7 linked regions of the Homo sapiens genome follow. The protein of the gene in region 7 interacts with the protein of the main gene of each other region in a biochemical or structural test. Each region holds a gene or a part of one and is shown on either strand. Other genes may lie near its edges.

What was found.
Region 1: the proteins of DDB2 (region 7) and PAQR3 form a complex in vitro, tested with the Homo sapiens proteins (one study listed by BioGRID).
Region 2: the proteins of DDB2 (region 7) and RAD51 form a complex in vitro, tested with the Homo sapiens proteins (one study listed by BioGRID).
Region 3: the proteins of DDB2 (region 7) and NR5A2 form a complex in vitro, tested with the Homo sapiens proteins (one study listed by BioGRID).
Region 4: the proteins of DDB2 (region 7) and XPC form a complex in vitro, tested with the Homo sapiens proteins (one study listed by BioGRID).
Region 5: of the proteins of DDB2 (region 7) and USP24, one has a biochemical effect on the other in vitro, tested with the Homo sapiens proteins (one study listed by BioGRID).
Region 6: the proteins of DDB2 (region 7) and SIRT6 form a complex in vitro, tested with the Homo sapiens proteins (one study listed by BioGRID).

Annotation. Positions count from the first base shown.
Region 1 is NC_000004.12:78,911,378-78,915,438, reverse strand, and holds the end of PAQR3 (progestin and adipoQ receptor family member 3), read left to right. Parts: 3' UTR 1-3,405; downstream 3,406-4,061. Other genes in the region: BMP2K (BMP-2-inducible protein kinase), read right to left, coding at 3,406-4,061. UniProt on the Homo sapiens protein: Golgi-scaffold protein which modulates its interactors acitivies by anchoring them to the Golgi apparatus. Functions as a spatial regulator of RAF1 kinase by sequestrating it to the Golgi apparatus.
Region 2 is NC_000015.10:40,701,674-40,705,173, reverse strand, and holds part of RAD51 (DNA repair protein RAD51 homolog 1), read right to left. Parts: intron 3,369-3,500; coding exon of another isoform or gene 3,248-3,368; intron 1-3,247.
Region 3 is NC_000001.11:200,044,710-200,048,209, reverse strand, and holds part of NR5A2 (nuclear receptor subfamily 5 group A member 2), read right to left. Parts: intron 2,768-3,500; coding exon 2,626-2,767; intron 39-2,625; coding exon 1-38. UniProt on the Homo sapiens protein: Orphan nuclear receptor that binds DNA as a monomer to the 5'-TCAAGGCCA-3' sequence and controls expression of target genes: regulates key biological processes, such as early embryonic development, cholesterol and bile acid synthesis pathways, as well as liver and pancreas morphogenesis.
Region 4 is NC_000003.12:14,161,602-14,165,101, forward strand, and holds part of XPC (DNA repair protein complementing XP-C cells), read right to left. Parts: intron 3,333-3,500; coding exon 3,212-3,332; intron 1-3,211. UniProt on the Homo sapiens protein: Involved in global genome nucleotide excision repair (GG-NER) by acting as damage sensing and DNA-binding factor component of the XPC complex. Has only a low DNA repair activity by itself which is stimulated by RAD23B and RAD23A.
Region 5 is NC_000001.11:55,096,865-55,100,364, forward strand, and holds part of USP24 (ubiquitin carboxyl-terminal hydrolase 24), read right to left. Parts: intron 3,006-3,500; coding exon 2,907-3,005; intron 1,695-2,906; coding exon 1,612-1,694; intron 1,221-1,611; coding exon 1,079-1,220; intron 854-1,078; coding exon 734-853; intron 309-733; coding exon 88-308; intron 1-87. UniProt on the Homo sapiens protein: Ubiquitin-specific protease that regulates cell survival in various contexts through modulating the protein stability of some of its substrates including DDB2, MCL1 or TP53.
Region 6 is NC_000019.10:4,173,609-4,176,586, forward strand, and holds the end of SIRT6 (NAD-dependent protein deacylase sirtuin-6), read right to left. Parts: intron 2,330-2,978; coding exon 2,234-2,329; intron 2,153-2,233; coding exon 2,072-2,152; intron 1,544-2,071; coding exon 1,420-1,543; intron 1,339-1,419; coding exon 1,009-1,338; 3' UTR 501-1,008; downstream 1-500. UniProt on the Homo sapiens protein: NAD-dependent protein deacetylase, deacylase and mono-ADP-ribosyltransferase that plays an essential role in DNA damage repair, telomere maintenance, metabolic homeostasis, inflammation, tumorigenesis and aging.
Region 7 is NC_000011.10:47,221,474-47,224,973, forward strand, and holds part of DDB2 (DNA damage-binding protein 2), read left to right. Parts: intron 1-3,500.

The sequences.
Region 1 (4,061 bases), on a different chromosome or scaffold from region 7:
ATATTAAAAACAAATGTACCCAAGCGCCTCAAAACTAGTGATATTAATACACTTGTACCTTCTAACAGTGCTTACGTGAAGTACCAAAACCTAAAATAAACCAAGCAGAGTAGCTGACTTGTAAGAAAACTGCTCTGCCTGGTGAACTTCAGCATAGAAGAGTGGGCTCCACCTTAGATTTTCCACCAGCAAGAGGACAACAGTCTATCACTCTTAAACAATAAACAGGGTAAGACTGAAAGTTGTGTCTATTTGCAAATCCGGATAATGTCGTAACTATACCCAACACGTACACAGGGATTGGGGTAAGGGAAAATAATTACACTCCTGAATAAATGTTCTAGTCAGTTAAATTTTCATCCGGCCTACAACCTTTCCTCCTCCACCTATTATACTTACCATGCAATTTTTGTGTCTTAGCAGATACATTCTTCAATGCCATAAAAAGCTGATCTTTTTAATACTAACATTTTACTGACGTGATATTAAAATAAGCAAATGGTCCACTTTTTAAAGGATTATTCAAAATCAACAAGCATTATTAAAGCTGTTAAGAAACAACTTTGGCCTCAAGATTTTTGCTAGCTTCATAATAATTTACTTCTCTTAGTGATGTTCAAGTATAACAGGTTTAGTTATAACTACATCCTAAAGAAGCACAGGGGACACCCAAATAATATTAGGGAAAAAAAACCCCAAATATATATATATATATATATTTGCTTAGTGGTACATATATAATAACCTTTCTTCCTTCCTTAAACCAGAATTGAACCATCCCATAATAGAGCCAAACTTTTATTGAGTGCTGTGTGCCAGGTACTGTGTTAAGCACTTTCACATATCTTGGGAGCTTTATTCTCATAATTCTCACAAGGGAATAACCTGAGCATCAGCTGTGTGGAGTGACCTACACCTTGACCATGATTCTGGGGGATGATGAATGAAAATGCAAAGTATAAATCTATACTCCTTAGGAAAATGCCTCTACTACAACACAAAGGAATCTCTCCATTTCTATCCTATTGAACCCCCAATTGAATCCTGTATCTTTTCTCTGAGCTACAATCTTGAAAGAAGAAAGTCACTGTGCTGTGTTATAAGAATGTAAATATTTTATGCTGTCAGTTGTTTCCTCAGAATTTATAAGTCAAAGGGTCTACATCAGTGTCAGAATCATTTAAAATTATTCAGTGTATTGAAAAGCAAGTAAAACTCTAGGTATTTCATGTTTACATCTGAAGGAGACATTAGTTCATCCTCTACCCCTTTTCTAAATGATGAAACTCATGAGGTCTAGCAGAGACCAAGGACTAATACAATCAAGAAGCATATTGTGTACACCTCAACAGATTTTCATTAAAAAAAATTGTTTGATACAAACCTACTGTAGTTCATGAATTTACTATGTGTAATCATCAACTCTTCACTTTTAAAAGAAAGTATCACTTGAATCTATTTTGTAAAGTTTTTAAACATCTACTTGAGCATTTGCATTAGCAGTATTAATCAACCTGAGAATCAGAAAAAAAAAAAAAGGTGCAAACATATTTGCCTTTGGCACGAGGACAAGTAATTGGTGCAGTCCAGCTCTAAATAATAATGTAATGCTTGGTCTGCCTCTGCTACATTGTGATTCACATATTGCTTCCCTATCCACAAATCTATATTTGATTTAGCATATAAAAGAAGGGAAAAAGCAATAAAAAGACAAATATGTGGTTTAGTTACATATACTTTGCTTCTTTCCAAGTTCAGAACTGTGAAAATAGGCAAATAGCTTATCCCATTGGGGCACTATAAGAGATTCCTAATAAAATTACTCGTAAAATATACTTTGAGATCGAAGAGAGTTAATTTAAAATATAAAAATCAAAGAGAGTGCCAGTTGATGAGTTTCTACTCCTTTCTGTAAATAGCATTAACTGTTCTAGAAACTTCCAAATGTTAATCTGATAGCGCAGCACAATTATATCTTAAAATAGTCATAGACACAGGAAGCACAGATACTATATTCACATTAATTCACATATGTAATCTCTATCATTAAATGATTTCTATAAAACCTCAAGTTTCTAATTAGGATTTGTGGTGTAAAAAAAGGCAAATTGGTAGCTGGGTTCTTTTCAGTAAAGACACAATCAACTAGCAGAATTAAGATGCTAGTCCACCTTATATGCATTTTAGGATCTGGTATATTAGTGCAGAGGTACTTGCAGCAGGATGCATGAATCCTGCCTTTATATAAGGCTTTGTGGGTGTCACCATTCTGTGCACTTTATTAAAACTACTCCACCCCCCAAAACCTAATAAAAATAATTGTTGCTTATGACTTGGGGAATATTTGGTGAAGTTGCTAATAAAGTACATTGTTAAATGCAACATGATTTCACATTGTAAATGTCTTGAAAATTCAGTTTCCGCTACATATTTTCTTCATAAAATAAAATTTTTATACAACCCTTGTCCTCCAATTTTTCCAATAATCTGCTTTATTAGGGCCATCACAATAAAAGTTTGGGGCAAGAAGCCATGCATAAAGTGTTTCTAAAGTAGTGAATGTTTTCTGTTCTGTATCTTTTTTTCTTCTTATAATTTCTTTACAAATGTCAGATATTTCTCTTCATATTTTTGTTCTAGGCTTCTGTGCGACGATAGTCCATTTTTTTAATTTGTTTTAACTGACAAAAATTATATATATTTATCATGTATAACATTGTTTTGGAATATGTAAGTTGTGGAATAGTTAAATTGAGCTAATTACACATTATTTCATATGCTTATCATTAGATATTCCATTTTAATGGCACTTGTTTTTAAAAATGAAACAGAGTTTTAGGCACAATAGTCAGTTACTTCTGGCTCTGCTTTGTGGAGAAAGGTGTATGGACTGAAATCTCTGCACTCTCCAGATAATAACTTTCTAATGCTTTAAGATAACTAGATTGTTTTTAACTGTCTGGAAATTAAAAGAGACCTTAAAAAAAATTCACAAGTGTAACTAGTGTATGTAGAAATAACCCTAATTTTAGGGATATGCACATAAAAATGACATTCTGATATCAAAAATAACAGTTTCACTGTCCCTTCTCAGTGGCTACACACCTAGAAAGGTGCCATGTGCTTTCACTGGAAGTACCACACTTGCATTTCTGTGTTGTGATGTCAGTAGCAGAAACCCTTAGTTAGAGCTTGCAATTTAGCTCCCTTTTCTCCTGAAGAGGAATCAAGTTACTACCCTGTAGAGATACTTCATTCTTCTATTTGGTTTATTTAGAAATCACCTATTCTGACTGATCTTTAAGAATGAATGCTATAAAGAGCTACCAAATTTTCTTTCAAATTCATAAAACTGTTCACACTTTTTTGAAACAGGAGTTAATGCCGAGAATCCATCAGAAGTATCTACTGTTTAGAAGGAAATGGAGCAGCACCAAATGGGTCTAATTCGACTGGTTGGGACTGTTGGGACTGATGTGGAGTGATGCTTTGCACCACAAGTTCTGTAAAGGGCACGGCACCAAAATCATCCATTTTCAATACATCTGCACTATGGAATGACCCATGTAGTGAATTTTGTCTTGGCCGCCCTGGCAGGACAGTATTGTGATCAGCACGGATGTCGCTCAGGCCCTGATGTGGAGGGTGCCATGACAGGTCTGGAGAATGGAAGGGCTTGGCACCGAAGGGGTCCAACAGGCTCTCCTCAGGTTGTAAGACATTCCCCCTATCTTTCCCATCAGTCAGTGCAACACTAATGTTCTCCTTGGAGTCTGAGATGGTTAAAAATTCATTGCTACTTTGAGAGTCTCGGCGGCCCACTTTTTTGTGCCTGCGAGCCCTCTCTGGAGTGCGATAGGTAGGCTTCAAAGTCTTCTTTGTGCTAGTTGGCGTGCCATGATGCCGCTTCCCATTACTTTTGGACATATCCTGCTTTGTGCGCCTTTGGCGAGAGGACAGTTTCTGTAAGCTGCGCTGTTTGACTTTTTGCTGCTGGCTCCCCGTTATTTCATCAAAGGGCACAAGCCCAAAAAGGTCCTCATTGCTTTCACTTTTACTTG
Region 2 (3,500 bases), on a different chromosome or scaffold from region 7:
GGCTCCAAGAAAAGCAGTGCTTAGAGAGAAATTCATAGCTATAAACAGCTATATTAGAAAAGAAGGCTGGGTGTGGTGAATCACACCTGTAATCCCAGCACTTTGGGAGGCTGAGGTGGGAGGACTGCTGGAAGCCAGGAGTTTGAGACCAGCCTGAGTAACAAAGCAGCACCCTGGCTCTAAAAATGTTTTAAAATTAGCAGGGTGGCTGGGTGTGGTGGCTCACCTCTGTAATCTCAGAACTTTGGGAGGCTGAGGTGGGCAGATCACAAGGTCAGGAGTTCAAGACCAGCCTGACCAACATGGTGAAACTTCCTCTCTACTAAAAATACAAAAATTAGCCGGGCGTGGTGGCACGCGCCTGTAGTCCCAGCTACTCGGGAGGCTGAGGTGGAAGAATCACTTGAATCTGGGAGGCGGAGGTTGCAGTGAGCTGAATTTGCACCACTGCACTCCAGCCTGAGAGACACAGCGAGATTCCATCTCAAAAAAAAAAAAAAAAATTAGTAGGGCATGGCTGGGCATGGTGGCTCATGCCTGAATCCCAGCACTTTGGTAGGGTGAGGTGGGCAGATCACGAAGTCAGGAGTTCAAGACCAGCCTGCCCAATATGGTGAAACCCCATTTCTACTAAAAATACAAAAAATAGCTGGGCGTGGTGGCGTGCGCCTGTAGTCCCAACTACTCAGGAGGCTGAAACAGGAGAACTGCTTGAACCCGGGCGGCGGAGGTTGCAGTGAGCCGAGATCACACCACCGCACTCCAGCCTGGGCAAGAGAGTGAGACTGCATCAGAAAAAAAAAAAAAAAAGGCCTGGCGCGGTGGCTCACGACTGTAATCCCAGCACTTTGGGAGGCTGAGGCAGGCAGATCATGAGGTCAGGAGATCAAGACCATCCTGGCTAACACGGTGAAACCCTGTCTCTACTAAAAATTAGCTGGGCATGGCGGCACGTGCCTGTAATCCCAGCCACTCAGGAGGCTGAGGCAGGAGAATCGCTTGAACCCAAGAGGCAGAGGTTGCAGTGAGCAGAGATCACGCCACTGCACTCCAGCCTGGGCACAGAGGGAGACTCCGTCTCAAAAATAAAATAAAATAAAATAAATAGCAGGGCATGGTGGGGCGTGCCTGTGGTCCTAGTTACCTGGGAGGCTGAGGCAGAAGGTTTGTTTGAGCCAGGAGTTGGAGGCTGCAGTGAGCTATGATCACACCACTGCACTCCAACGTAAGTGACAGAACAAGACTCTGCCTCTAAAAATAAAAAAGATAAATCATAACCTAACCTTCCAAAGAAAAGCAAACAAAACAAAGCAAGCAGAAAGATGGAAATAATACAGGTTAGGGTAGAAACTATTAAGTAGAGGGCAGAATAATAGAGAAAAATCAATGAAACCAAAAGCTGGTTCTTTGAAAATATCAACAAAATTGACAAACTTTTAGCTGCATTGCCCGAGAAAAAAAGAGAAAAGACTCAAATTACTAAAATCAAGAATGAAAGAGGGGACATTACTACTGACTTTATGTAAATAAAAAGTAGTATAAGGAAACCCTGTGAGCATCTCTATGTCAACAAGTTAGGTAACTTAGATGAAATAAGCAAATTCTTAGAAAGATAAACTACCAAAACTCACTCAAGAAGAAAATCTAAATAGACCCATAGAAAGTAAAAAGATTAAACTTTCATAATGTTTAAATTTCCCATGAAGAAAAAAAATCAACAAATAGCTGAAAAATCAATGAAAGTTTATTCTCTAAACTTTTCTATATACTTAATATTTCATTTAAAAATTCATTGCACGGCCAGGTGCAGTGGCTCACGCCTGTAATCCCAGCACTTTGGGATACTGAGATGGGCGGATTACCTGAGGCCAGGATTTTGAGACCAGCCTGGCCAATTCATATACTCACTGTCATTTCAGTGCAACAAACATGTACTAGACACTTACTTCGTATGAAACATAGTCCCAGGGACTCTGAAGGATATGGAGAAAAAGAAGAGCTGATTCCTGCCTCCACAGAGCTTATAACTTAATCAGAAAGATAAACTATACAAAATAACTATAGTACAAGTAGATGTGATGGGTAATATGAGAAGTACTAACAAGCCATGGGAGCTCAAGGAATATAGACTACTTCCTTTGGTGAAAAACAGGAGAATGTATTAGCAAAGACAAAACTGGTAGAAATGGTCAGGCTAGTGGCATGTGCCTATAGTCCCAGCTACTCAGCAGGCTGAGAATTCCTTGAGCCCAGGAGTTTGAAGCTGAAGCTGCAGTGAGCTTTGATCATGCCACTGCACTCCAGCCTGGGCAACAGAGTGAGACTTTTCTTTTTTTTCTTTAAAAAAAAAAAAAAAAGGTGGGCACAGTGGCTAGTGCCTGTAATTTCAGCACTTTGGGAGGCTGAGGTGGGCAGATTGCTTGAGGCCAGGAGTTTGAGACCAGCCTGGGCAACATGGTGAAACCCCGTCTCAACTGAAAATACAAAAATTAGCCACGTGTGGTGGTGGGAGCCTGTAATCCCAGCTACTTGGGAGGCTGAGGCACGACAATCACTTGAACCCGGAAGGCAGAGGTTGCAGTGAGCAGAGCCAAAATTGCACCATTGTGCTCCAGCCTGGGTGACACAGCGACACTCTGCCTCAAAAAAAAACAGAAAACAAACAATACAATCATAATCTTTACTGGCCAGAAACAAAGAACATAAAATATTGAAAAGTAAAGACACGTAAGTCTATACCATATTGCATCTCAAATCATGTATTCTAGGTTTGCATTGTTGTGTTCATAGAAACAGAGAAGTGACTTGATTTCTGAAACCAAGATCTCGCAAGGCAAAAAGAAAAGATCCTGTCAGCATTTGTTCATTCACAAAAACTGATACCCAAAAAGCGAAAACAGAAAGACTTTAGGGACCCCTACTGGCTTAGTCAATATGACAATCTTTTAACAAAAATACTGTTAGGGACTCAGAACCCTTATTTCCAATTAAGCAACCACTTCAGCAAATATTCATTTGAGTAATCCAATAAATTTATCTAACGCTAACAGTAATCGATACGTGAAAATACAATTTTATAAATAAATATTTGCGGTGGGGCGCGGTGGCTCACACCTGTAATCCCAGCACTTTAGGAGGCTGAGGTGGGCAGATCACAAGGTCAGGAGATCGAGACCATCCTGGCCAACGTGGTGAAACCCTGTCTCTAATAAAAATACAAAAATTAGCTGGGTGTGGTGGCACATACCTGTAGTCCCAACTACTCGGGAGGCTGAGGCAGGAGAATCACTTGAACCTGAGAGGCGGAGGGTGCAGTAGACCAAGATCACGCTATTGCACTCCAGCCTGGCAACAGAGCGAGACTCCGTCTCAAAAAAAAAAAAAAAAAAAAAAAAAATCTGCTTTATACTACATAAAACTTCAAGGGTAAAGGCAATAAAACTGTGTAACTATATAAACACTGAAGAAATAGGTTCATAAAACAAAATGTAACCATGGGG
Region 3 (3,500 bases), on a different chromosome or scaffold from region 7:
CTTATTCCTTCCTCCACGCATTCGGTCGGCCCTTACAGCTGTTGGGGGTGGGGTGGGGGGAAGGAAGGAAAGGTATAAATAAGGTGCAAATTATTAGCATTCTTCAGATATTTAGAAATGTAAATCGACAAGAAGTGGTATGTGTGTGGTTGTTTTCGTTACAATAGCCCACAAAGATTTCCCAAAAAACCATGTCCTCTTTATTTATGAATTCCTTCCTCCAAGTGTGTGTCGTCATCAAAAAAATACTTTGGCCACATAGGGACATATTAACCCTTTTGTGGATGGAGGAGAGTTCATAATTTTTGTTAGACATAGAAATATTTCACATAGGCGTGGTGCGGTGGCTCACACCTGTAATCCCTGCACTTTGGGAGGCCAAGGCGGGTGGATCACCTGAGGTCAGGAGTTCAAGACCAGCCTGGCCAACATGATGAAACCCCATCTCTACTAAAGATACAAAAAATTAGCCAGGCGTAGTGGTGGGTGCCTGTAATCCCAGCTATTCAGGAGGCTGAGACAGGAGAATCGCTTGAACCCGGGAAGTGGAGGTTGCAGTGAGCCAAGATCACACCACTGCACTCCAGCCTGGGCAACAAGAGTGAAACCCCTGTCTCAAAAAAAAGAAAAGAAATATTTCACATTGCTAAGAAAGAGTATCAGTCGTTCTACTAAGAGTATATGCTTTTATTATGCCAGTTCCTTATGGAAACCCAAACTGCTTTGGGGTTTTCTTTTGCAGGGGTGTGGAACTGAGTTACCCAATTTTGGATTAAATTGTGAATACTTTCCCACAAGATACCTTCCTCCCTGAAAGCCATTTTGGCCACCTTGTTGCAATAACAAAAGGGGTGGGGACATGTTCTTGGAAAATCATGTTCACCTGGACTTGATGAGCCCACATCAGATGACCACCAGTTACTGCTTTTAATTTAAGTAGAATTGGACATAATTAAAACAAATTCATTTCAGAAGCTGTCAAGAGAGTCTTCTGCGACAGTGGTGTGTGGAGTCTGCGGCCATGACTAATAAGTTAGTTAGCAGTTCCCTCTAAGTCCATAGTGGCCAATGGCAATTAGACAGAAACTAGAGACCTCTGATAGCTTGTGACATATTGAACTTGCTGGAGGTTAAGTTTTTGAGCTTTTTATCTTGGATTAGTATCACATTAAAAATTTATTGTAAATTCTAAGTATACAGAATATTGCACAAGATTATAAAGAGTTTTTCATCTGGATGATAATTTATTGAATATTCAGTTGTTTCATATCACTCCTAAGGAAGCATGAGCATGTACCACAAGTGATTTACAATTGTGAAAGCTTAACTTAAAAAAAAGAAAGTTTAATTATTTAAGGTAAAGAAATGCAGCCTTATTATTTTTGTTGAAAAGGAATTAAATGACATCATGCAAAATCACAACATTTACTTATCTTCTGAGTCTCTTACTGTATGTAGTAAGCATCTACCACAATATTTTGCTATTTGGGAAATAATAGTGATTGGTAATAAGAAAATTAATAAGCATCAATTATTTCCTTTCATGATCTCTTAAAAATGATACTGACATTAACAGTCCTCATAATAACCAAAGTGGCTACCTCTGTTCGGAAGAAGCGTGTTAGCTATTCAGCAGATTTATATGATTTTTTTTTTTAGTATTTCTATCAAGTATGAGTTCCATATAACAGAAAAGTTCCAAATAAAAATAGCCTGTGCCTCATTGATCAAATAAAATGCACTCTTGTATCTAGCACCATCGGTGATATGTATCCCTGTTATTGCTTTATTTGCAGTATATTTAATCCATGGAAAGCAAGCAGGTCAGAGGCTAGAAAGCAGCAACATACCATAGTAGTCCATGAACTACAAATTATTTACAGCAGTCACATATTAACTTTACTGCCTGCCAATCTGTACATTGTAGTATAGGGTCTGCTCTTTCAACAAAGTTCAAGTGTGGCTTTTCAGGAGCCACTTTCTTGTTCTTTTCAGACCTTTGCTAATGATTTAATAGTTCGTTATTTTTCATGTTTCCTGATTCTCAATTTTTTATTTTGCAGCCTCAGTCATTATCTTTTAAAAAAATACATTTCTACACTATCAAAGATAATATCCTACATGAGAAACTCCTTTTCACCATTAAAGGCTTTAACTCTTAAGAATCATGAAATTAGTAGTTAACACTTGTGACAAGCACACCTCTTTTAAAAAGAATTGAAATCAAACTTTTCCAAGGGTATCTTGATTTAAAAACTCAAAGAATATTTTACTTTTAATAGTTTTACAAATTATTCTTGTTTTCAGTTGGATTGCTTTAGTCTTATTTTCATAACCTGATCTTTTTCCCTTTTTTGTGTCTAATGCATCTGCTCCCCAGACTAAAAAAAAGGGGGTGGGCAGGGGAAAGACAACTAATATTTTAAATTTTTTTCCTAGTAGATTTCACCATGATTAAATGAGACTCAGACTATTCTGCAGATGAAACATAGAAAGATCTTACAGTATTGTCGGTAGTGTTAAAATGCTGGGAAAATAATGTTACCATGCTATAAGTACAATGTTGTTTTACAGTTCATGTCCTTGGAGAGTTTTAATAGGCAGTAGTCTTTAGAAGAATCTTACCTTCTAGCTTCATTCCAACACTTAGACATTTTTGAAAACGACAGTAAGGACAACGCTTTCTCTGTGTTTTGTCAATTTGGCAGTTCTGGTTTTCTATACATGTGTACCTTTTATTATTTTGGACTGTTCGCTTAAAAAATCCCTATAAGACAGAGAAAATAGTGAGACGTATTATAAATCTAACACCCGTCTTTTCCATTGTTTCATTTTAAGAAAATCACCAGTAAATCCTCTCATTGCACTATTTGAGCCCTTATGTGGTTCTGTGGTTTATTTTACATTTCAGCAACATCAACCTTCCCAAACTGTGCCAGGCCATGGTGGAGATTTTTCTGGCATCAGTTTTATTCTTGAAGAATTACGTCAAATCCTGGGGAGATTTGGCTACCCACCATTTTATCCCAACAGTCAGAAAAAATACACTCTATATAGATAAATTTTTTTTTAATCTATTTTCCTATTATCCCACATGTTCCTGATAGAGGTACTCATGAAGTCCTGGCATTGTTTTTAAGTAGTCTGATATAATTTCAGTGATAAACCATTGCAAAATGCCAGTGGAAAAAACTGAATAGCAAAACACCTCAGATTTTTTTTTTTTTTTAACAAATGTCAACACTGGATAGTTAAAAGCAAAAGGATTTAAAGAGTAAAATGGGAAAATGCTCATAATTCCACTGGAATACATTCAAGTATGGGAACTGTTCTTAAAAAGGCAAAACTAATGGAAGGAAAAAGCATGTATCACAGATAGCTGAATTGTAGCACACAGGGTATGAGCTTTCCTTATATTTTATATAAAAGAATTAATCAAAAATAAAATGTGTAGCTTTATAATATGAGATTTACCAGGATAGTATTCATATTTAACCCAC
Region 4 (3,500 bases), on a different chromosome or scaffold from region 7:
TGAGACAATCCAACAGGCTTTCATGATTAAAAAAAAAAAAAAAAAATTCAGAACACTAGGAATAGAAGGGAACTGAGTCAACGTGATAACCCAGATCTAGTATGATACTTAATGGTGAAAGATTGAGAGCTTTCCCTCTAATTATCAGGAACAAAACAAGGATGCCTGCTGTCACCACCATTATTCAACATTGTACTTGAAGTCCTAGCCAGAGCAATTAGGCAAGAAAAAGGCATGCAAACTGGACAGGAAGAAGTAAAATGATCTACTCATAGATGGCATGATCCTATACATAGAAAATTTCAAAGAATGCACAAGAAAGCTAGTAGAGCTAATAAATGAATTCAGCAAAGCTGCAGGGTACAAGACAACACAAAAAAATCAGTTGTGTTTCTATACATTTGCAATGAACAACCTAAAAGAGAAATTAAGAAAACAATGCTATTTCCAAGAGCATCAAGAAGAATAAAGTACCTAGGAAAAAATTTAACCAAGGTAAAAGGCTGTACACTGAAAATTACAAAATACAGCTGAGAAATTAAAGACAAAAATAAAAGGAGAGACATCCATGCTTATGGACTGGAAGACCTAATAACCAGATGGCAATGGCACCCAAATTAATCTACAGATCAGTGCAGTCCCTATCAAAATTCCACAGCTTTTTCACAGAAATGGAAAAACAGATCATCAAATTCATATGGAATTGCAAGAGGCCCCAGATAACCAAAGCACACTGTAAATGAACAGAGTTACACTGAGGCTTCCTGATTTCGCAACTTACTACAAAGCTATAGTAATCAAAACAGTGTTGTACTGGCGTAAGAACAGACATGTAGACCAACAGCATAGAATTGAGAGGCTGGAAATTAACCCATACATTTATGGCCAGTTGATTTTTGAAAAGGATGCCATGACCATCCAAGCCCCATTGAAAAAATTGTCTCTTCAACAAATAATGCTGGGACAAATGGATATCCACATGCATAAGAATGATATTGAACACCTACCTGATATATGCAAATATTAACTCACAACGTATGTAAGAGCAGTAACTATAAATCTCTTACAAGAAAACACAGGGGTCGATCTTTATGACCTTGGATTTGACAATGGAATCTTAGATACGACACCAAAAGCAAAAAGAACAAAAGAAAAATAGGTAACTTGGACTTTGTCAAAATTCAAAACTTTTGGGTATCAAAGGACTTCATCAAGAAAGTAAAAAGGCAACCTACAAAATGGGAGAAACCATGTGGAAAGCATGTATCTGATAGGTAACTAATATCCAGAATATACAAGGAGCTCTTACAAATCATCAACAAAAAGGCAACATAATTAAAAAATAGGCAAATACTTGAACAGACATGTCCTCAAAAAAGATACACAAATGACCAAGAAGCCCATGAAAAGACACTCATCATCATGTCATTGGAGAAATGCTATCAAAACCACAATGAGGTATCACTTGACACCCATCATAATGACTATAATCAAAACATCAGAAAATAACCAAGTGTTGGTAAAGATTTGGAATCCTCGTTCATTGCTGGTGGCAATGTAAAATGGTACAGTAACTGCAGAAAACAGTTTGGTGGTTTCTCCAAAAATTACATATAGAATATACATATGACCTAGCAATTTCAATCCTAGGTATATACCCAAAAGAACAGAAAACAGGGTATGTAAATAAATATATGTATAGACATTATTAACAACACTCTTCACAACAGCCACAAGGTGGAAACTAACTAAATGTCTGCCAATGGATAAATGGATAGAGAAAATGTATAAACATGTAATGGAATATTATTCAGCTATAAATATTAATGAAATACTGATACATGCTAAAATGCAGATGAATCTTGAAAACATTATACTAAGCAAAAGACAGGCAGAAAAGGCCACATAGTGTATAATTTCTTTTATACTAAATATCCTAAATAGGTAAATCCACAGAGACACAAGACAGATTGGTGGTTGCCACGAGCAGGGACAGGGGGGTAACAATGAGGAGTTTAATGCGTATATACAGGGTTTCCCTTGGGGGTGACAAAAACATTTTGGAAATAGAGGTGGTAGTTGCACAACATTGTAAATGTACTAAATGGTCACTGAATTGTACCCCCTCTTTAAAAGCTGTGTGATCCTATTTTGCTTAAACAAATAAACAAAACAAATACATACGTACACACATACACAGGAACAAAGTCTGGGAGGACAATACTAAAATATTAATGAGTTACCAGCCTGGCCAACAGGGTGAAGGGTGAAACCCCATCTCTACTAAAAATACAAAAATCAGCCAGGCATGGTGGTGGGCACCTGTAATCCCAGCTACTCGCGAGGCTGAGGCATGAGAATCACTTGAACCCAGGAGGTGGAGGTTGCAGTGAGCTGAGATTGCACCACTGCACTCCAGCCTAGGCGGCAGAGAGAGACTCTGTCTCAAAAAACAAAAACAAACAAACAAAAAAATTGGCAGCACATTATAACATAATTATCAGCCTTGCCAAATATCTTAGACTTGTTAAAGCCAACACGGAAGAAGAGAACTAAAGATGTCAACCATCTTTTTCTCCAGAGAATCTGGGACTCCCAGATTGAACTGTATGGATTAATAGGAATCTTCTAGGGATAAAACCACATTTCCATCTCTGTTTTTGTTTTATTCAGACAGAGCCTTACCTACAGGTGCCTGTAGGCATTTGATAAAGCCTGCCTGTCCCTGGAGCACTCTGCCATCACGATTCCTTTTTATGGACAGAACCCTCCTCACTGCACTGCTGCCTGCCAGTGTCAACACCCAAATGTGAGATACAAAAACACATTCTCAAGGACTTCAGCATCCAATTTGAAAAAACATTTCCTTGGGACTTCTGAAGACAAAATTGGAAAAATTAATGAAAATATTTCTAGCACATCTGACCAAAAACTACGGGCTTTTTGGTACACCACAACTAGAGGCGATAGGGAGGAAAGCATACAGGCCCTCCACTCAGACTCTGATCCCAATCTCGATTCTCAGGCTCACCAAGGAAAAGACCTTAGAGGCATCATGTAGCTATTCTGGGCTTCAGCAGCTATCAACGTCATTATGAGGACTGAATAAGGTAGTGTCGGTAACACACCTGGAATGGCATCTGGCACATGGCTGCCATTATCATTAGTTAACAGTACTGATAAAAAACAGTGATCCGGGAGGATCACTTACATGGACCAATTCCTCATCATCTCGAGCAGAGTAAATAGCAAATCTCCTTTCCAATGTAGTCTGCAGGTTATCTTGTTCACTGGCTGAAAGTTCTGCATTAACTGTAAATGTTCCAATGAACCTGGGGAGAAAGCAGGCATTCCTTGTGTCAGAGGTCAGGGCAAAGGGGAATTTTCATTTCCAGCCAAGAAAATAAAAAGAGGGAGTGAATCGTGAGACCCGCCTGCCTCTGTCCTACTTTCCCCAGCCCGTCTAGCTAACTCCTATCATCACTGCAGACCCAGCTCAG
Region 5 (3,500 bases), on a different chromosome or scaffold from region 7:
TCCCTGCACCACAGCGGTGAGTATGGATGATAACGGAGAGCAGGGGAGGGCAGAAAGTGAGTAAGTGCTGCCTCAGGAAACTCTTACCGCCTGTCCTTAATGAAGGAATAGTAGTGGCCTGCGTGTGCCTGCCCACTGTGTACGATGACACCGACAAGTTCATAGTTTTCTGTGAGGGCAACCTTTTTTCGTGGGGATCCTCCACCGCCCTGATCCACACTTCGCCCATTTTCCCCAACTTCAGAAGAAGAATCTTGGCGAGCCATTCCTGAAACTGTGTAAGGCTCCATGTTTAGCATCCAGGGAAACTATGTAGAAGCAAAAAGACCATATTAACGTTGATTACTAACATATACAGCAGTACCCAGTTAAGTGAGATCCAAATAAGAGGAAGTGTTTTCCTAGTTTAAGCTAGGAACAACTACCTCACCAGTTCAAGTATAAAATCTCAGAAATGTTAAGTCTGGGAACGTCTAAAGTAGCCTCTGGTTTGAGCCCTAAGGAAGGCATTTTCCTTCATAGTAATCACTAGGATGCCTTCTAGAAATGAGGGCCACTGTTTCCAGATCTGCCTATTCCGGTAACAGCAGCTGCCTAAGATAAGGGGCTCTTCATAATGCTGAGACAACAGCCTTAACATGGTAGACAGAATATGAAAATTGAAAAAGGAAAAAAAAAGAAGTGAGTGAGGAAATGAATGGTTGTGAAAAATTTCAGGAAGAAAAAAAGTTACCCTTATTTGTTCATCATATTTAATGGAGCGTCCGCTTTCCCAGTCAAACCCAAATCTCATTAGGTGAATTACCAAGACGCTAGGTAAAGATTTAATACAGGTCCTTTTCACTGTTATTCTCTAAAGAAAAAAAAAAGGAAAAAGAGCAAATCTGAATGATCTCCATGGAGAAAATAAAACAGCACAGTAATTAATGCAAAGGCCTTTCTGATCCATGTGAAAACAAGTAATGACACAATCTAATGGAAATAACAGTAGGAGCTTAATACTGATTTTACATAAAACAAAGACGCACTATGCGAATAACAAATTAATCTTGTTTTTTAAAAAGGGCAAACATAATACCTTTTCTTTACACTTTTCACAGTAGTACGCATTACTTCCTTCTAGAACTTCTCCTCTAACAAATTGGTCCAAAGAAATTTCCAAACTCTGACAAGAAGTCACTCCTAGATTGAGAGCCATGAAAGCTTCTTCACGCTCATATCTGATTAGGAAATAACAGAAAACCCACAATCAACAATGGAATTTAAAACTCTTCAATTATCATAATACCTAAGCTTGAACACAGAACTACATTTTTAATCTGGGAGTCCCTCAATATTTTAAAAGTCCATTACTAAGTTAAAATGCCACTTTGTGACAATTAAGAATTGCCTAAAATTATGAATTTCAATGAATATTTTCTTAAGCCCACAAAGAAATTTTTTCTCCTTCTGGAAGTAGAAAGCAAAGAAATTTAAGTCACTAAATACTTATAGATCTGTTGACAGGGAGAGAGTTCTAAGTCTCTTAACAAATGCAAAATTTACAACATACTAAACAAATCACTTCAAAAGGATGATCATTTTTCCTGTGTCGGTGATATCTTCACTCACCTGTGAGGACAGTCTTTACAGATCTTCTGATCAGAGTAGATGCCCTGAAATGTATTCTTAAAAATTTGGTCTCTCCCCATTTTCTGTTGGAATGAAAAGTTACAGTTTTAAGTGATGCCTCCTGAACTTATGAGTATACAGAATTTTATTAACACATTGCAATTTAAGGACCAAAACAAAACGCGTCATTCTGGTAGTATCAGCTGTGGTGAATGGAGGCTAAACCCATTATTGGCCCCACTGTCAGAGTGATGCAGACGATCAGAAGAGGAAGAGGAGGAGGGATGGGTCAGGTAGAGCTAATGACAAGAGAGTGTTCTCCAGGGTGATTCTGAATCCTTCTCCCTGTGCTACAAGGACCAAGTTAGGGGCAACTCTCAGCAATCTTTTCTTTTTTCTTGTGGATAGAATGCCATCAATTTGCAAGTTACTTTAAAAAATGGAAGAATTGTGCCTACTGATGAGAGGCCAATGCTGGCAGTGACAGCGGGATCTGAGAAGGCAATACCGTTTAGGAAGTCTGCCACATGGCTTACAGGGTAGAGGTAGAGAGCTTTGGGTTTCAACAGCACCACGAATAACTTTTTAATCTGGCTCCTTTCTCCCCTGTGCCAGAGCACTCTCTGCTCTGCACAGGGCCATCAGCTCACCAGTGACTGCAGCACTCTTCTGAGGCCAGATTATTTCAGTAGACACACAGAAAGAATATGTAGGTAGGAATGGTTATTACTATGTAGTAGAGATTAAGAGTTACATACTTTACTGAGCGTTAGATGAATTAAGAAAATATGCAATTCTAGGCCAGGCATGGTACCTCAAGCCTGTAATCCCAGCACTTTGGGAGGCTGAGGTGGGTGAATCTCTGGAGGCCAGGAGTTTGAGACCAGCCTGGCCAACATGGCGAAACCCAATCTCTGCCAAAAAGTACAAAAATTAGCCGGGCGTGGTGGTGCACACCTGTGATCCCAGCTACTCGGGAGGCTGAGGTGCAAGAATCTCTTGTACCTGGAAGGTAGAGGTTGCAGTGAGCTGAGATTGTGCCACTGCACTCCACTCTGGGTGACAGAGCGAGACTCTGTCTCAAAAAAAAAGAAAAGAAAAAAAAGAGAAAATATACAATTCTATTGATCTGTGTTATGTTTTGATGTTTAAACACAGAATACATTATAGTTCTTATGTTAAAGATAATCAATTTCTGATTCGTCAGTTTCATAGTAACCCCAAATGCTAAGACACTATTCTCATACTATAATTAGAGTTTGAGGGAGTTAGAGGGAAAGTACAACTTTTACTACCTTGAGGTATTCATCCATCTGATCAATGAGACTAGTAAAGAATTCATATGCATCCTGCTGTTCTCTCACATAAAGTTCTTTATTCCACATCTTGAAAATCTATATAACAAAAATTAAATGTTTTTAAAGGAAAAGTAGCAATTTCTGAATGTGGTAGAAAGGGAACATGAAAGAGCACTTAAATGCTTATAAAAATCAGGTTCACTATTAGGATGTGGACATTTCTAGTGAAGTGAGACTAGCTTGTATTCAGCCATCCACCCTTTTTTCTAGTCCCCTTACAATCATAACAAGTCTCTGAAATCAAAAGTGGGTACTGGGTAAGATCTAGGCCATGGAACAGAGAATTTCTCTCTTAGAAACAAATCAACCTATGGGGAAAAACACAAGGTGATCCTCCAATATGTGAAACACAGTAAAGCAATGTTTAAAAATAGTATTCTTGGCCGGATGTGGTGTCTCACGCCTGTAATCCCAGCACTCTGGGAGGCCGAGGCAGGCGGATCACCTGAGGTCGGGAGTTCAAGACTAGCCTGACCAACACGGAGAAACCCCATCTCTACTGAAAACACAAAATTAGCCGGGCATGGGGGT
Region 6 (2,978 bases), on a different chromosome or scaffold from region 7:
ATCATCAGAAAACTGGCCTGATCCCTCCAGAGGCGGGGTGGGGGGAGAGGTGAGCCCTTGTTCCTCGGCCCCCAGGCTTGAGGGGCAGGGATTGCAACGGAGCCCAAGCAGCTGGTCCAGGGAGGAGGGGACCACGAACTCCTGACCCAGGGGGGCGAGGACCTGCCACAAATAGGGAATTTAAACACTCACTGGGCACAGTGGCTCACGCCCGTTAAGTCCAGCACTTTGGGAGGCCAAGGTGGCCTGACTGCTTGAGCCCAGGAGTTTGAGACCAGCCTGAGTCACATAGTGAGACCCCCATCTCTACAAAAAATGCAAACAATTAGCTGGGTGTGGTGGCACACACCTATAATCCCAGCTACTCTGGAGGCTGAGGCAGGAGAATTGCTTGAACCTAGGAGGCAGAGGCTGCAGTGAGCTGAGATCACGCCACTGCATTCCAGCCTTGGTGACAGAGTGAGACTCTGGCTCAATAAAATAAAGTAAACACACTGAGATGCAAGAAAGAAATTGTTTTTATTGCATTGAGGACTTTTCCAGAAGCCTGGTGGACCCACGTCTCCCTCCAGCCCCAAAGGCAGTGCAAGCCTCTACTGATCCCCCACTTCAAGGTGGGTCTCCCCTCCTGCAGGGCCCATGGAGGAGGGGTAGGGTGGGCTGTAGGGGGCCCAGAAGGGAGGCCCTGGGGACAGAGGGAGTTCACTCCTGTTTAAGCTGGAGACCAGGGAGGGCCCAGCCTCACCTCTGGACAACACAGCAAGTCAGAGGCTGGGGTGTGGCAGGGGCTCACCTGTCACCTCTGGGGTGTGGCTTCTTCCCGGAACCGCACCAGAGGCCCCTGGAGCCCAGGGAGGGACCACGGAGGGCAGGTGTAACCCCTGGCCTGGAGCACAGCTCTCAGAGCCCTGAGGCTCCCGGGGACAGAAACAAGTAACAAAGTGAGACCACGAGAGAAAAAGAATCCACAGTTTCTACAAAAAGCCCCACCCTCCCCAAGCACCCTGGTCAGCTGGGGACCGCCTTGGCCTTCACCCTTTTGGGGGGTCTGTGGGGGGCAGGGCTGGTGGGCCGCTCCCGTTTGGGGCTGGCGGGCTCTGAGCCGTTGTGCTGGGCGCAGGGCTCCTGCTTGGGGCCGGCGGGGATAGAGCCGTTGATCCGGGTGGGAGATTCCTCCTTGGGCTCCAGCTTGGGGGTGGGCGGGCGGGGCAGGGGTGGCAGCGCCCTCTCCAGCACACGGGGGCCGTCCCAGGCGGGGATCTCCAGCCCCAGGTGCTTCATGAGCCGGGTCATGACCTCGTCAACGTAGCCATGGATGCGGAGGTCAGCATGGCGGTCCTGCCGAGGGGCGGGACGGGTCAGGCGTGGGGGACAGAGGGTGCATGGTGGCCCTGGGCAGGGGTAGGCTCAGACACCTACGTGCTTGGTGGGCTGCAGGTTGACGATGACCAGGCGGCCTCCCCGGCGCTTGGTAGCCAGCGGCAGGTTCCCGCTGGGCCGGATCTGCAGCGATGTACCCAGCGTGATGGACAGGTCGGCGTTCCTGGGGCCGGGGAGCGTGGGCTGAGCCTGATGCCCTGCTCCTGCCAACATCCCGAGCCAGCCCTGGGGGCCGGTTCACACCTAGGCCATCTGTGCTCACCGGGGCGGTCAAGGCCAGCCCCACTCCCGAGTCAGCCTTTGGGATCCCGCCCTGCCCTCCTCTGCGGTCCGTTGGCGGGGTCATTGATCTGGGCGGGCCCTTAGACACTTCCGGGGAGTATCACAGTGTGGTAAGAGCTTGGACACCTAGGGTGGGACCCTGGCTCGGTCACCTCCCGGCTGGGCAGCACTGGATAGAGGAGACACCTGGCGGAAGCCTTGGTTTCCTTGTGTAGCACCCACCCAGAGCCATGAGGTGACGAGTGTGTGTGAGTGCGTGTGTGCAGCCCCTGGCCTGGCCCACCTGCTCCAGGAAGCCTCCCCTCACTGCCTGTGAGCCTCAGCCACTGTCCCATGCTGGAGCTGGCTGTGTTTCTGCTGTCGTCCCGCCCCGCCCCACCATGGGCTCCCTGGGGGTGGGGGGTCAGACCTGCTGGCCTCATCGGCGAGTGCCAGGTCCCGGTCGGGCAGGGAGTCCTCCCAGTCTAGGATGGTGTCCCTCAGCTCTCCCCTGCAATGAGGAAGCTGAGGAGAGTCCTCAGGGGCCTCGCAGCCTCCCCTGGAGCCCAGGGCATGGGTGGGGGTGGCTCACCTGCAGGCTCGCAGCCCCCTTGCCTTAGCCACGGTGCAGAGCCGGCCCGTGGCCTTCAGGCCCATGGTGCCCACGACTGTGTCTCGGACGTACTGCCTGTGTCAGGGAGGAAGGGGGAGGATGGGACCAGGTGAGCTCCCATGGGTGACTCTCGCACTGTTTCTAGGGTGACGTTCTCCCAGGGAGGTGGGGGGTGGACAGGTGACCAGAACTAGCACCCAGCGACACGGAACGAGTAGCCTTCCATGAATAACGGGCTGGGATGCTGCTCGGTGCCCGGAGCACAGAAAACAAAGCAGGAAACTGTCCCAGACAGACGAAGGGGCTCGAGAGACAAGACCCAGCATGGGATCCCGGACCAGGAGAAACAGGAACAATTGGAGCATGGGGGCGACAGGCCGAGTCTGGATTCGGGATTAGAGAAGGCGATGTCCACTTTACTTTTCCTGACTTTAATCGTTATACTGGGCCGGGCGTGGTGGCTCACGCCTGTCATCCCAGCACTTTGGGAGGCTGAGGCGGGCAGATCACAAGGTCAGGAGTTCGACACCAGCCTGGCCAATATGGTGAAACCCCGTCTCTACTAAAAATACAAATATTAGCCAGGTGTGGTGGCGGGCGCCTGCAGTTGCAGCTACTTGGATGGCTGAGGCAGAATAATTGCCTGAACCCGGGAGGCGGAGGTTGCAGTGAGCCGAGATTGCCCCACTGTACTCCAGCCTGGATGACAGAGCGGGACTGTCTC
Region 7 (3,500 bases):
TCACTCTATTGCCCAGGCTGGAGTGCAGTAGCACGATCTCGGCCCACTGCAACCTCTGCCTCCTGAGTTGAAATGATTCTCCTGCCTCAGCCTCCTGAGTAGCTGGGATTACAGGAGCCTACCACCATGCCCAGCTAATTTTTGTATTTTTAGTAGAGACGGGGTTTCACCGTGTTGGCCAGGCTCGTCTTGAACTCCTGGCCTAAGGTGATCCACCTGCCTTGGCCTCCCAAAGTGCTGGCATTACAGGTGTGAGCCACCGTGCCCAGCCTGAATTTTATATTTTTGGTAGAAACAGGGTTTCACCATATTGGCCAGGCTGGTCTCGAACTCCTGACCTCAAGTGATCCGCCCGCCTCGGCCTCCCAAAATGCTGGGATTACAGGCACGAGCCACTGCACCCGGCCTGGGTTTTTAAAATTATATCTTTATTGAGGTATAGTGGACATAAACTGCAGCTATTTCAAGTGTACAATTTGGCTATTCTCAGCCTATGGGGTAGTCCTACTCCAGAGAAGCAGTAAGAAAAAAAGAATAAATTGTACAATTCCATGAGTTTTGACATATGTGTACAACTGTGAAGCCATCACCACAATTAAAATAACTCCCATTTCCCCACCCTTTGTTGAATATTTGGAGAGTGATAGATAGATGAGTTATCTATGCCCCTTTGTAATCCACCCCTCTCTACCCAATATCTTATTCACTGTAAACTGCTGATCTATTTTTTATTTTTAGAAATTAATTTACATTTTCTAGAACTATATATAAATAGAATCATAGAATATATGGTCTTTTATTTTTGTTCTAGCTTGTTTCAGTATAATTATTTGAAATTTATCTACATTTTTATGTGTAGTTTTTTTTTTCTTTCTGAATAATGGTTCATTGTTTTTTGTTTTAAGACAGGGTCTTGCTGTGTCACCCAGGGATGATCATGGTTCAGCATAGCCTCAACCTCCTCAGCTCAAGCGATTCTCCCACCTCAGCCTCCTGAGTAGCTGGCACTACATGCACAGGCCACCATACCTGGCTAATTTTAAAATTTTGTTATAGAGACAGAGGTCTCACTGTGTTGCACAGGCTGGTTTCAAACTCCTGGCCTCAAGCTATCCTCCTGCCTTAGCCTCCCAAAGTGCCGGGATTATAGGCGTGAGCCCCTGCACCCAGCCACATTGTACTGATATGATACAGTTTATTCATTTACCTGTTCAAGGACATTTGAATTTTTTTCTAGTTTTTGAATGCAACATATAAAGCGACTGTGAACATTCACGTACAAGTATTTGTGTGGATATATGTTTTCATTTTTCTTGGGTAAATACTTAGCAGTGGAATGGCTGGATTATAGAGTAGGAATGTTTTAAAGATACTTTTTAAATGAGAAAAGGTTTTTCTATTTGCCCACATATTGTCATTTCCAGTGCTTTCATTCTTTCATGTGATCCAGATTTCCTTTTGGTAATATTTTCTTTCTGCCTGAAGAAATTCCTTTCATATTTCTTATAATGCAGATTGGTGATAAATACTTTCCACTGTTGTTTATCTAGAAAAGTATTTTGCCTTTATTTTGAGGGAGGATGTTTTTGCTAAGTATAGAATTCTAGGTTCACAGTTTTTAAAATTATTTAACTTTTATTTTTTAATTGGTAAATTAAAATTGTATTTTATTGCATACAATATATTTGTTCACAGTTTTCTCCTGTCAGTACTTTAAAGATGATGTCTAGGCTGGGCGCTGTGGCTTACGCCTGTAATCCCAGCATTTTGGGGGGCCAAGGCAAGTGGATCATTTGCGATCATGAGTTTTAGACCAGCCTGGCTAACATGGTGAAACCCCGCCTCTACTAAAAATACAAAAATTAGCTGGGTGTGGTGGCGCTCACCAGTAATCCCAGCTACCCGGGAGGCTGAGGCATGAGAATCTTGAACCTGGGAGGCAGAGGTTGCAGTGAGCCGAGATGGTGTCACTGCACTCCATTCTGGGTGACAGAGCAAGACTGTGTCTCAAAAATAAATAAATAAGGCTGGGCGCGGTGGCTGACACCTGTAATCCCAGCGCTTTGGGAGGCCGAGGCAGGCGGATCACGAGATCAAGAGATTGAGACCACCCTGGCTAACACGGTGAAACCCTGTCTGTTCTAAAAATACAAAAAAAATTAGCCAGGCGTGGTGGTGGGCGCCTGTAGTCCCAGCTACTTGGGAGGCTGAGGCAGGAGAATGGTGTGAACCCAGGAGGCAGAGCTGGCAGTGAGCCGAGATCGGCCACTTCACTCCAGCCTGGGTGACAGAGCAAGACTCCGTCTAAAATAAATAAATAAATAAAGAATAAAAATAAAGATGATTTCTAGTTGGGCTCAATGGTTCATGCCTGTAATCTCAACACTTTGAGAGGCTGAGGCTGGGGGACCTCTTGAGGCCAGGACTTTAAGACCAGCCTAGGAAACACAGCAAGACCCCATCTCTACAAAAAAATCTTAAAAATTAGCTAGTGGCTTGAACTTGTAGTTCCAGCTGTTCAGGAGGCTGAGGTGGGAGAATTGCTTAAGCCCAGGGGGACAAGGCTTCAGTGAGCTAGGCAAGCCTGGGTGACAGAGCAAGATCCTGTCTCAATTAAAAACAAAACAAAACAAAACATCCTGATGAGAAGTCTGCTACTATCCTTATGTTCCTGTCTATGTAATTTTTCTTCTGGTCGCTTTAAAAATGATTATGATGTGCTTGTGGGGGGATCACTAAGCTTCTTTGATTTATGGATTTTTTTTTTCTTTTGAGACAAAGTCTCACTCTGTCGCCCAGGCTGGTGTGCAGTGCCACAATCTCGGCTCACTGCAACCTCCACCTCCAGGGTTCAAGCGATTCTCCCTGCCTCAGCCTCCCGAGTAGCTGGGATTACAGGTGCCCACCACCTCACCTGGCTAATTTTTGTATTTATTTATTTTTATTTTATTTTTTTAGTAGAGACAGGGTTTCACCATGTTGGCCAGGCTGGTCTTGAACTCCTGACCTCCAGTGATCCGCCCACCTTGGCCTCCTGAAGTGCTGGGATTACAGGCGTGAGCCACCTTGCCCAGCCCATTATTTCTTACAAAGAGTTCAAAATGAAGAAAAAGAACAGTTCTTTTTTTCTTGGGACTGCGATTACATATGGTCCTGCAGGTGGTTGATGCACTGTTCATTTTTGTCTTTTTCCCTGTTTCATTTTGTGCAGTTGTTCACTGATCTTTACTTCTGTAATATCTAACCTTCTGCTGTCAATCCCTCCCTCCCTCCCTCCCTTCGTTCCTTTCTCTCTCTTCTCTTCCTCTTCCTTTTCTCTTCTCTTTCTTGCCTGTGCAGAGCAGGGCTGCTCCATAGGCAAAGTAGCCCAGCGTATTTTTCATTTCAGATACTGTATATCCCCTCTAGAAGTTTAATTTGGATTTTTTTTCATGTCTTCCATTTCTCTCCTCATATTTATTATTTCCTCTTCTTTCTTTTTTGAGATGAGGTCTCACTCT